Regions from separate parts of the Homo sapiens genome. Here region 1 is linked to region 2. The links come from fine-mapping of genetic effects on gene expression. A gene starts in region 2. The other region holds a variant in brackets. All regions are shown on one strand. Distances are between the middles of the regions. Region 1 overlaps TGOLN2 (trans-golgi network protein 2). Region 2 holds the start of RETSAT (retinol saturase).

Evidence for each region. PIP is the estimated chance that this variant, and not a neighbour inherited with it, causes the effect. A credible set is the group of variants that fine-mapping cannot tell apart.
Region 1: its variant is the best candidate, but not a certain one, in a credible set for the expression of RETSAT in whole blood (TOPMed, PIP 0.74).

The regions. Positions count from the first base shown.
Region 1 is chr2:85,313,375-85,318,745 of GRCh38, forward strand. It overlaps TGOLN2 (trans-golgi network protein 2), which reads right to left. Exons shown (of 4, transcript NM_006464.4): 4 at 4,653-5,371. Among named protein-coding and RNA genes, the nearest start is that of TGOLN2, 12 kb to the right of the region's middle. RefSeq lists an enhancer at 11-511. The variant CTT/C (reference allele first, on the strand shown) is at 2,060.
Region 2 is chr2:85,352,555-85,357,898 of GRCh38, forward strand. RETSAT (retinol saturase) reads right to left here and starts at 1,974. Exons shown (of 11, transcript NM_017750.4): 1 at 1,782-1,974. The coding sequence starts at 1,953. It overlaps ELMOD3 (ELMO domain containing 3), which reads left to right and starts at 2,215. Exons shown (of 14, transcript NM_001135022.2): 1 at 2,215-2,275; 2 at 2,522-2,616; 3 at 3,001-3,044; 4 at 4,413-4,698. The coding sequence starts at 4,645. RefSeq lists enhancers at 1,976-2,477, 2,042-2,441, 2,478-2,977, 2,612-2,671.

The DNA of each region.
Region 1 (5,371 bases), 39 kb before region 2:
TACAAAACTTACCCGGGCATGGTGGCGGCCGCCTGTAGTCCCAGCTACTCGGGAGGCTGAGGCCAGAGAATCGCTTGAAGCCAGGAGGTGGAGGTTGCAGTGAGCCGAGATTGTGCCATTGCAACCCAGCCTGAGAGACAAGATCAAAACTCTGTCTCAAAAAAAAAAAATACTGCACATAATTCTGTGTGATAGACTTCTTTGTATGACTGGCAGTGCAGTGGGTGGCTCCACCAATGCCAGCCTCTCCTTCCCCTGCCCCATGTGGCTGGGTCTGCAGCCTGCTCGGCCTCCCCTCTCTCAGACCGGGGGAGCTGAGGGGGTGAGGTAGAGACGGCCCAGGGGCAGAGCAGGGGGGTCGGGCTTGGTGCACAGGCAGACTCTGCCTTTGCTACTTCCTGCCTCTCTCTCTGTGACCCTGACCTCCCTTCTCCCCTGTCCCAGGACCTCTGGGAACTGACACTGTCCTGGCCAGGCCCCAGCATCTCACCCAGGCAGCCCAGCTAGAGCCATCTGTCCCTCTTGCCCTCCATCTGTGTTCCTGTGTCTCTTCCTCCTGAACACAACCTGAGGGCCTCACAAATATTTAGTTACATGAACGAAGCAGGCCGGGCACGGTGACTCACGCCTTCAATCCCAGCACTTTGGGAGGACGAGGCAGGCAGATCACTTGAGGTCAGGAGTTTGAAAATAGCCTGGCCAACGTGGTGAAACCCCATCTCTACCGAAAATACAAACATTAGTGGGTGTGGTGGTACATGCCTGTAATCCCAGCTACTTGGGAGGCTGAGGCAGGAGAATCGCTTGAGCACGGGAGGCGGTTGCAGTGAACAGAGATCGCGCAACTGCATGCCAGCCTGGGCGACGGAGCAAGACTCCATCTAAAAATAAATAAATTTTTTAAAAAATGGAAAAAGCAGAGGAGCCAGGGACCCGGCATCCCTCTGGCACGGGAATGGGAAGACAGCAGAAGAATCTGTGGGGGCAGTTTCCGGAACACCGGTCTCAGGTCATCTGCTGAGGAGTGGGGAAGCCCAGCTGTTTAGGTCTGGGGAACATCAGGTGCCCCACAGTGGCTGTGGCCTCTGCCATAGTGTAGTTCTTCCCTCCTCCCTCCAGCTGAGTCCTGAGATGCCAAGTACCAGTCAGGCTGCCTGCCTTTGCTCACATGCATTGGCATCCCTCTGGAGGCCTTGTGTTCTGATGTCACACTAAGAATCATGCATGTTCACTCACTCCGTGACTGCATAAAAGTTCATCCTGAAATCAGGCTGGTAATGAGCTGCTGTTCATGTGTGGTCTTCATGGGGGGAACCCAGTCATGTGCTCCACACTTCAAGACACGAAGGGGAAGATGGGAGGCAGTAAGCTTGACCTTCCTGCAGGTGCTGAGCCAGCTCATGGGGGCTGAGGACCAGGGCTGGGCTTTACCTGCCTCTGAAGGGGCTTGGAGCAGAGGCAGGGGAGGTGGAAGAATAGGAACCTGGGGCAGTGTCCTTCCCAGGCAGGAGGACACAGAAGAGCAGGCCCCTGCCAACATCAAGTTGAAACAGCTGTAAAAGTGGCCTGGGCACAAAGCTGGCAACTGAAGATAAGGCTCAGGACACAGCGAGCGGTCACCCTGAGGCTCTCCTGGGAGCAGGGAGTGGCTGTCTCCGGCCATGGTCCACAAAGGCACCAACCACTCCCCTTTGCAGGTGTGAAGCAGCAGCTGGGGACAGTTCAGCCCGGCTTAGGCATGACCTCTGTTTTCATCTGCCTGCGAGGCACCAAGGAGGACCTGCATCTGCCGTCCACCAACTACTATGTTTACTATGACACGGACATGGACCAGGCGTAAGGTGCACGTGTGTGTGTGGCCCGTGCCTCCCTGCTTGACTCAGAGAACGAGCAGAAGTTATGGAATGGGAGGAAGTAGGCAATTTCCAATTTGCACCTGGAAGTTTGTCACACCAAGGCTGTGGCTCAGCTTCACCCCTGTGGGGAGTCCCTAGGGACGAGCAGTCCTTGCAGTGGTTCTGGGGTTTTGAGGACAAAAGCCTGGAGATCGCACCACACT[CTT/C]GTCACACGCAGGATGGAGCGCTACATCTCCATGCCCAGGGAAGAGGCTGCGGAACACATCCCTCTTCTCTTCTTCGCTTTCCCATCAGCCAAGGATCCGACCTGGGAGGACCGATTCCCACGGGGGGCTGCACGTCCTGGGTGAGGGGGTGGAGGGAGGGGCCGGGCAGTAGTAATATCAGCTCTGATCCCCAGGCCGGTCCACCATGATCATGCTCATACCCAGCACCTACGAGTGGTTTGAGGAGTGGCAGGTGGAACTGAAGGGAAAGTAGGGCAGTGACTATGAGACCTTCAAAAACTTCTTTGTGGAAGCCTCTATGTCAGTGGTCCTGAAACTGTTCCCACAGCTGGAGGGGAAGGTAGGGGGTAAAGTATTTGGGGTGGTGACGGACCTCATGGTGCTATTTCTGCCCTTTCCTTGAGACAGGGGAATTGGGCCCCAAGACATGAGCCCCAGGGAAGGACAGGGCACCCAACCCCGGAGTCAGTGAATGGGAAAGAGTGGAAGAGGGAGGGGAGCCAGGATCTCACATGCCTGCCCCACCCTTTCTGCCCTCAGGTGGAGAGTGTGACTGCAGGATCCCCACTCACCAACCAGTTCTGGCTGCTCCCCGAGGTGTCTGCTACAGGGCTGACCATGACCTGGGCCGCCTGCACCCTCGTGTGATGGCCTTGAAGGCCCAGAGCCCCATCACCAACCTCTGACAGGTATACTCACTGCCCCATGTTGTCAGGACCTGAGACCCTGGGCCCCTGTCGCCCAACGTCCTCTGTTCCTGCCCTCAGGCCCTGCTGTCCCCTGCAGCCTCCCATCCCCTGAGCAGGGCTGCCTGGGCAGGCTGTGGCCCCTGTCTGATTGGAGCCAGCTCTGGGTGGCCCTCATGTGGAGGGAAGAGCACCAAGGCCCCACCCTCCCCTGGGCCTGCCTGGGTGCACACTCAGGGGCCTCTGCTCTTGCCTCCTAGGCCAGGGTATCTTCACCTGTGGACTGGTAGGGGCCCTGCAAGGTGCCCTGCTGTGCAGCAGCGCCATCCTGAAGTGGAACTTGTACTCAGACCTTAAGGATCTTGTCTCTAGGATCTGGGCACAGAAGAATTAGTTCCATCAGGGAGGAGTCAGAGGAATTTGCCCAATAGCTGGGGCATTAGTTCCTTGCACATATAAACCACTCTTATTTGGTTCTGATGCCTGAAGAGAGGCCTAGTTTAAATCACAATTCCGAATCTGGGGCAATGGAATCACTGTTTCCAGCTGGGGCAGGTGAGATCTTTCCACCTTCTATAATATGCCATCCCTACTAATAGGATATTGACTTGGATAGCTTGATGTCTCATGACGAGCGGCGCTCTGCATCCCTCACCCATGCCTCCTAACTCAGTGATCAAAGCGAATATTCCATCTGTGGACAGAACCCCTGGCAGTGTTGTCAGCTCAAGCTGGTGGGTTCAGTTCTGTCCTGAGGCTTCTGCTCTCATTCACTTAGTGCTACGCTGCACAGTTCTACACTGTCAAGGGAAAAGGGAGACTAATGAGGCTTAACTCAAAACCTGGGCATGGTTTTGGTTGCCATTCCATAGGTTTGGAGAGCTCTAGATCTCTTTTGTGCTGGGTTCAGTGGCTCTTCAGGGGACAGGAAATGCCTGTGTCTGGCCAGTGTGGTTCTGGAGCTTTGGGGTAACAGCAGGATCCATCAGTTAGTAGGGTGCATGTCAGACGATCATACCCAATTCATATGGAAGTCCCGGGTCTGTCTTCCTTATCATCGGGGTGGCATCTGGTTCTCGATGTGCCAGCATCAAGGCACCTTCAGGGAGCTCGGTACCCGAGCCTCAATCAAGCCTTATCCTCCAAATATGCAGGGAAAGGTGACACAGGGCAGGGAAGGGTGACGTCAGGAGTCAGGGCATCGACTGGTAAGATTACTTCATTGTGTTGAGGCAGGCTGCAGGGCATTCCACACAATGGCACAGCAGAGGACAGCACAGGGAGGCAACAGAGTGTTCCCAGCAATGGCCCAGCTACTGAAAGCAGGCAGCCAGGCTGGGAGGAGTCAGGTGGCAAGAGAGTTGGTCAGGAGCAGAACATGGAAAGCCAGAGAAAGTGTGCAAAGCCCAGAAATGGCATCTGCAATTTACTGGTACATGTGTGTGTTGGATGGAAGGTGAAGGAAGGCTCAAAAGGCATAAAAAGGACCTTTCACTTATGTTAAACTGACATGCCAAAGGTCTTATTGGAGTTCATCTTAATATAATATTAATAAATTTATTGGCCGAGCGTGGTGGCTTACACCTGTAATCCCAGCACTTTGGGAGGCCAAAGTGGGCGGATCACGAAGAAGAGATTGAGACCATCCTGGCCAACATGGTGAAACCCCGTCTCCACTAAAAATGCAAAAATTAGCTGGGCGTGGTGGCACGCACCTGTAGTCCCAGCTACTCGGGAGGCTGAGGCAGGAGAATCGCTTGAACCTGGGAGGCGGAGGTTGCAGTGAGCCAAGATCATACCACTGCACTCCAGCCTGGTGACAGAGCAAGACTCTGTCTCAAAAATAAAATAAAATAAATAAATAAATAAATGTATTAAATCCATTGCTTTAACATTTTGAAATTTATTTTGGTTTCTGTTCAACAAAACCAAACCACATTGGGATGGCATTTACAGAAGCTCAGAAAAACATTATGCACTGAAAAATACTTCTCATTAGACCACAACAAGCTTTAAAAAAATAAAATTAAGTAATTATAGTTAAGTTACAAAAAGCTGAAAGTATAAAACATTGTGGAAACAGTGACCATCTATTAACTGGGAAAACACAAAAGAAGAGAAACAATTTCAACCATTAATCATTTATCAAACATGAAGTCTGGTGCATTAAAGGAATATCTATCAGAGGGTGAGGGGCTGGCTTACTGGCAGTTTGACATACTATACAGCTCAGACCCAAACCCTTCACAGAGAGACTCTAAGTGTACATCTGACTTGCAGAACTAGACGAGTTGAGTCACTGTTAGCTCTGGATATACCGTTAAATTAAACCTCAAAATCTCTCCCCAGGACTCTTGCTCAAGCAAGTCACGCCAAATCCAACCTTCCTAACAGGGGTTTTCAGAAAATGGCCTGCAGAAGCACAGGATCTGGTGCCTCACAGTTTCCTCCATGCTGCAATGCTCTAGTTCTCATCACGCCCATAGCATCTGGCATCAGGTTACCCTGTACAGTCAACGGCCATAGAAGTCGCCAGCAGGGAAATTCCAGAGGTTTAGAATTCTATCAGCACATGTGTCACTGGAAGCCATCATGGGAGTAC
Region 2 (5,344 bases):
TATGTTTTATAGAGCCAAAGTCTTGCTATGTTGCCCAGGCTGATCTTGAACTCCTGGCCTCAAGTGATCCACCCACCTCGGCCTCCCAAATTGCTGGGATTACAGGCATGAGCCAACACACCAGCCCACAAGCCGGGTTTCTTTGGAAGATGCAGGGTCTGCAAGCAATAGTGGAATAGCTGGGTCTTATGGTGGCTCTTCCAGGTCCTGATGAAAAGGCTTGGGCAGGACAGAACTGCTCAGAGGCTGCAGCTCTGAGAAATCACAGCACCAGCCCCTCCCATAGGGAAGGTCTGGGGGCAGTGCTGAGGGAGGCAGCACCTTCTCAGAAGACAAAACTGGATAGCAAGTGGTGCTATATGGGTACTTCCGACACAAGATCTGTTCTTTAACAATCACTGGCAAAGAACTGAGATCTGGGATGTTTCAAGATACAAGAGAACTTGGCAAACTGCTTATTTTTTTAATGTTTTTAGAGAGATCAATAGTAAAAAAAAATTTCACATGTAAGTATATAAGATAAATACATGAAACAAGTGTCACAATGCAATACTTAGTGGAACTATGTATAATGCACTCTGATATTTTCTATTCTACTGCATTCTAAAATACTAGTTGTGGCCAGGCGTGATGGCTCACGCCTGTAATCCCAACACTTTGGGAGGCCGAGGTGGGCGGATCGCTTGAGGCCAGGAGTTCGAGAGCCTTGACAACATGGTGAAACCCTGTCTCTACTAAAAATACAAAAATTAGCTGGGCATGCCCACTACTCGGGAGGCTGAGGCAGGATAATCACTTGAACCCAGGAGGCGGAAGTTGCGGTGAGCGGAGATCGCGCCACTGCACTCTAGCATGGACAATAGAGCGAGACTCTGTTTCAATAAATAAATAAATAATGCCAGTTGCAACTCACTAAATTGATTTCATAGCCCACTAATAGATCACAATCCGGTTTGAAAAGCAGTTAAGCTAGTCATCTCATTTTTAGACCAGCCCAGGTAGGTGCTAATGGTTATGCAGCAAATTAGTGACAGAGTCCAAGCTAAAACTCAGTTCTCAGAAGTCCAGATGATTAGTCCTTCCACTTAGAACAGTACTGTCTCCGATTGTGTAGCAAGATATGACACGGAGAATTCTAAAATTTACAAGTGAGAGGGACTCCGTAGATCAAACAGGTGATCCATTATTTTTTAAAGCAGCAGAACTCTTTAAACTCTAGAAGCAACCACAAAATATGTTTTAAAGATGAGAGTGGAGAGCAGGCTCTGAGCCTGAGGCGCCTTGTTGAACCTCTGCCAATGTTTCAGAACTAGGGTTCAATCCTTACGATTTGGGACCATGCAAAGCCTGTTAAATCACCGGACGGGCAAAACGCAATTTCCTACGCATTTCTGTGCTGCTCCCCCACACCCCTGAGCTCGCATGGGAGGGTAGGTGAAAAAGTTAAGGTCCTGGAACCAAGTGGAGGAATGAGTCACGGGGATTATCAGTTCCACGAGCCACGGGGATTACAAGTGGCAGGGCGGGTGCCAACACCTTGCAAACCAAGGACAATGACCACACCCTTGGGACTACTATTCCCGGGGCCTACTAGGGCAAAGGCTATCGACAGTGTTGCACACTAAAGCGGGGCTCCTCCACGTGCAAGGAAGCCCTCCTAGTACTTTACATATGGGGAAACTAAGGCCCACGTCTGGTAGCGGCTGCCTTGGCAAAATGAGAACCCAAATCTGTGAGAAAGCCTCGAGTGCAGCCCCGGACCCCAGGGTCCCTCCTGCTACCTTGTTTGAGAACCTTCTTCCTGGCCTCCTTGTCAGTTACCAGGGGCGCTGGGGGCCGTTTGACATCTTCGGAGAAAGGATTCGGGGAGCTGCCAGAGAATAGTCCCAAGTAAACTTTGCAGAGGACGGCCAGCAGCAGCACAGCCAGGAGCAGCACCAGCGGAAGCCACATCACGCCGGCGTCGGGTCGGGTAAATGGGACAGCTCCGACTGCGCTCAGCCTCTAGGACTGTGGCTCCGCCCGGGCTAGTTCGCTCTCCAGTCAGGAGGCGGAGGCAGCTTTGAGCACTGATTAACCAGCCAGCCAGCGAAGAGCCAACTCTCAGGTGATGATTGACCCTCCCGGCTCTCCGTACTTCTTTTGGGTTTCCATTGCCTACTGGGAAATGTAGTTCTCGGGGCCAGGGGAGCCGGCACGGAAGCGGCTGTGCGCATGAGCAGATGAGGCCTAGCCGAGGCGGCGGGACCCCCAAGTTTGGAAAGCTCTTTTAACGGTGAGAACGCGTTAACACTTGCCAAGGGGAGTGGTTGGTGCCTGTGCGGAGCTAGCAGCCGGCCTGAGGAGGGAGGGAGAATGTGATCCGGTGGAAATTATCACTATGGGGCGAGACAAGGCCGAGAGTTGTAAGACTGAAAGAGAATCCCGACTGGGAGACAGGAGTCCTGAGTTCTGGTCCTGGCTCTGCCCTGGACTCGCTGCCTTGAGGTGTTAAATTGCTTTCCTCGTCTTACGCCTCCAGGCTATGCGAAAGTTCTGTCCAAAGGCTGCTCACAGCCCCTGTCTGACTGGTTGTCATGATGAATTGAGCTCTCTGTTACCTGCGCATCACAACCGGTGAGCGTCTGTCTCTGTGCCCCTCAAAGTGGCCCATAGTTTTGTCCTGGGGGCCCGCCTGGGACGGAGTCCTCTATGGCGGGTCCCTAATGACACCCCATCCGTGGGGAACCTGGGGGACGGGGAGCCGCCCATGGACAAGCATGGTGAAAGGATCAGCTAAGGGCCCATCTAATTTAAATTCCTATGCAGAGAATCTAACCTCCAGCAAGCAGTTGAAGAATCATACCCCCTCCTTGCCTAAAGAGGGTGCATAATGAATACTTGATTGGAGAAGGATCCATTTTTACAGGAAGGCCGTTTCCTTAGGTCCAACTATCAGGAATTTGCCTTTGAGTACTTCCTTGTTTAATGGAATTGTTGCTCTTTTCTTCTCTGCTACAGATAGTAACTGTCCCTACTGAAGGCCCCAGGAGTGCTCCAGCCAGGTGTGGAAAGCTGGTCACGATTCTATGCTACTTGGTTCATTTTCTACACAGCAACAGAAGAGCCCTCCTGAGATTGCTATTACCATACCCGCCTGTCACCTTGCCAAGGCTGGCCAATGTGTGTTTTGTCATAGGCTGTCATGGAGGCCATGATGGAGGAAAAGGAAAGGGGAGGCAGATGTTGAGGCCCCAGAGGCCACAGTGAGAGCAGTTTAGTTCCTGGGGTGCCAGGACTAAGGGGGCATTGCCCTGTCCCCCGGATTACAGTGAGCCACATGTCAAGCCCAAGAGCCAGGAGGTATTCTTCCTCTCAGTGTTAATAATCAAAGCATCCTGACACCAGCAGCCAGTTTTTATGGCATCCTGGAGGGCTGACCTCATAGAGAGGCTACCCTCCTTCCTTAGTCACCCAAAGTTGTGAACTATGATTGTCAGTTGTGTGTGGGCCATCTGCCCACTTAGGATGCAATTTTTGATGTGACAGACATTCCGGATGTCCAATTCCCCTGTGATGAGGTATGAGCCTTGTCCAGCCCTTTTCCTGAGGGAAGCAATGTCAGATGAAAGACTTAGAATTGCCCAAACTGGCTAGCCAGCTGCCACATGCACAGTATTGCTGATAACTGAGAAAGGTTAGAACATCGTGTTGCATTTTGAATTTCTACCATTGTTGGAACCAGGTCTAGTATTATAAGCCCCTGACCCAGCCTGTGTGTGAGGCCTAAACAAAGCCTGAGCACTTCAGCTAAGACCACCCACCAAGGTGACACCTTTAGCCTCACGCCTTTGATAAGCTGGCCCAGGTCCCAGTAACTCCATTGTCAGAAACAGACCCCATCCCTTCTAGTGGTGCTGCTGCCTTTTGGACACAGAATCCAGCTCACAGTCCCCTGTGTGGTCCCCTTTTGGCCATCCTGTGGCTTGGGTAGTAAGAGGTAAGCATTTGGCTGAGGCAAGTTGTTCATTCAGAATAAATTCACAGCTGCTTAAATTTTGTCAACAGGCCGAGCGTGTTGGCTCATGCCTGTAATCCCAGCACTTTGGAAGGCCGAGGCAGGCGGATCACGAGGTCAGGAGTTCAAGACCAGCCTAACCAACATAGTGAAACCCCATCTCTACTAAAAATACAAAAATTAGCAGGGTGTGGTGGCGCACGCCTGTAATTCCAGCTACTCGGGAGACTGGGACAGGAGAATCGCTTGAACCCGGGAGGCGGAGGTTGCAGTGAGCCGAGATCGCACGGCTGCACTCCAGCCTGGGCAACAGGGCAAGACTCCAACTCAAAAAAAAAAAAAAATTGTCAACAGAGGCATAACTGAATGGTGAAACCAGTTTTCTTTTTCAATTTCTTTTTTTTCTTTTGTGCAGAGCTGAGGCTTCGAAGACCTCAGAGGACTTCTCTCAGCACTCACAGAAACCTCCTACACCCTCGGATGGCACAAAGGGACTGTTTTCTTACTCTTAGTCTGAGTGACTGCCAAGGAAGGCAAAGGTAGAGCAACTGGATCTCTGGCTCTCCACATAGCTTCTGATCTCAGACCTTACTAAAATGCTTTCTGGGCCCAAGGACAAAGCTCACATGAACAAATGATTTTGAGTCATGAATGAAAAATCTTGCTCTTTCCATAGTAAAGAAGAATTAAGAGATGGACAGGTAAGCATGCACTCTTATTTGGGAAAGGTGGTGTTGGTTTGAGATATATCATTAAGTATAGTAAGAATATATTAAGAGAATATTTGGAAAAATTTAGAAACCCTCATTATAGTTCTCTTTGTTCTGTAAGAAGGAGCTTCTATTCACCTCAGGGTCAATTGCTTTTCCTAATAGCTTGTTTTGTAAGTGAGTTATGAGATTTTTGTTTTCTTTTTGCTTGGGTAGTGGGGAGAATTTCATTGAGGAATCACCCAAGAAATCTGTATTTCATTGATTTGGATCATTACCTTACTAGCCTCTTCCCTGTGAAACGCTTGCTTTGGCCTGATCATCCTCAGGACTCAGTTCAATGTGATATGTCTTTGTATGAGCCGGGCAGCTAACCCTACATGCCTTACCTTTCACACTACTTTGCCCACCCAAAAATGGTCTTAAATGGAGGCTGTGGGATTCAGTGGCCAGACTGGGACAAAGCCTTTGCTTTGGGTCTCCAGAAAGATTTTCTTCACTGTAGTAATATGCGAACTGTTCCAAAGAGGGAAGTCTTTGGACACTGGAGGGGACTGAATTGGAGAAGGAAAGGAAGGATGAAATGAATCTCAGGTACACAGATGCCTGCAGGAAGTTGTTCAGCACAATGAATCAC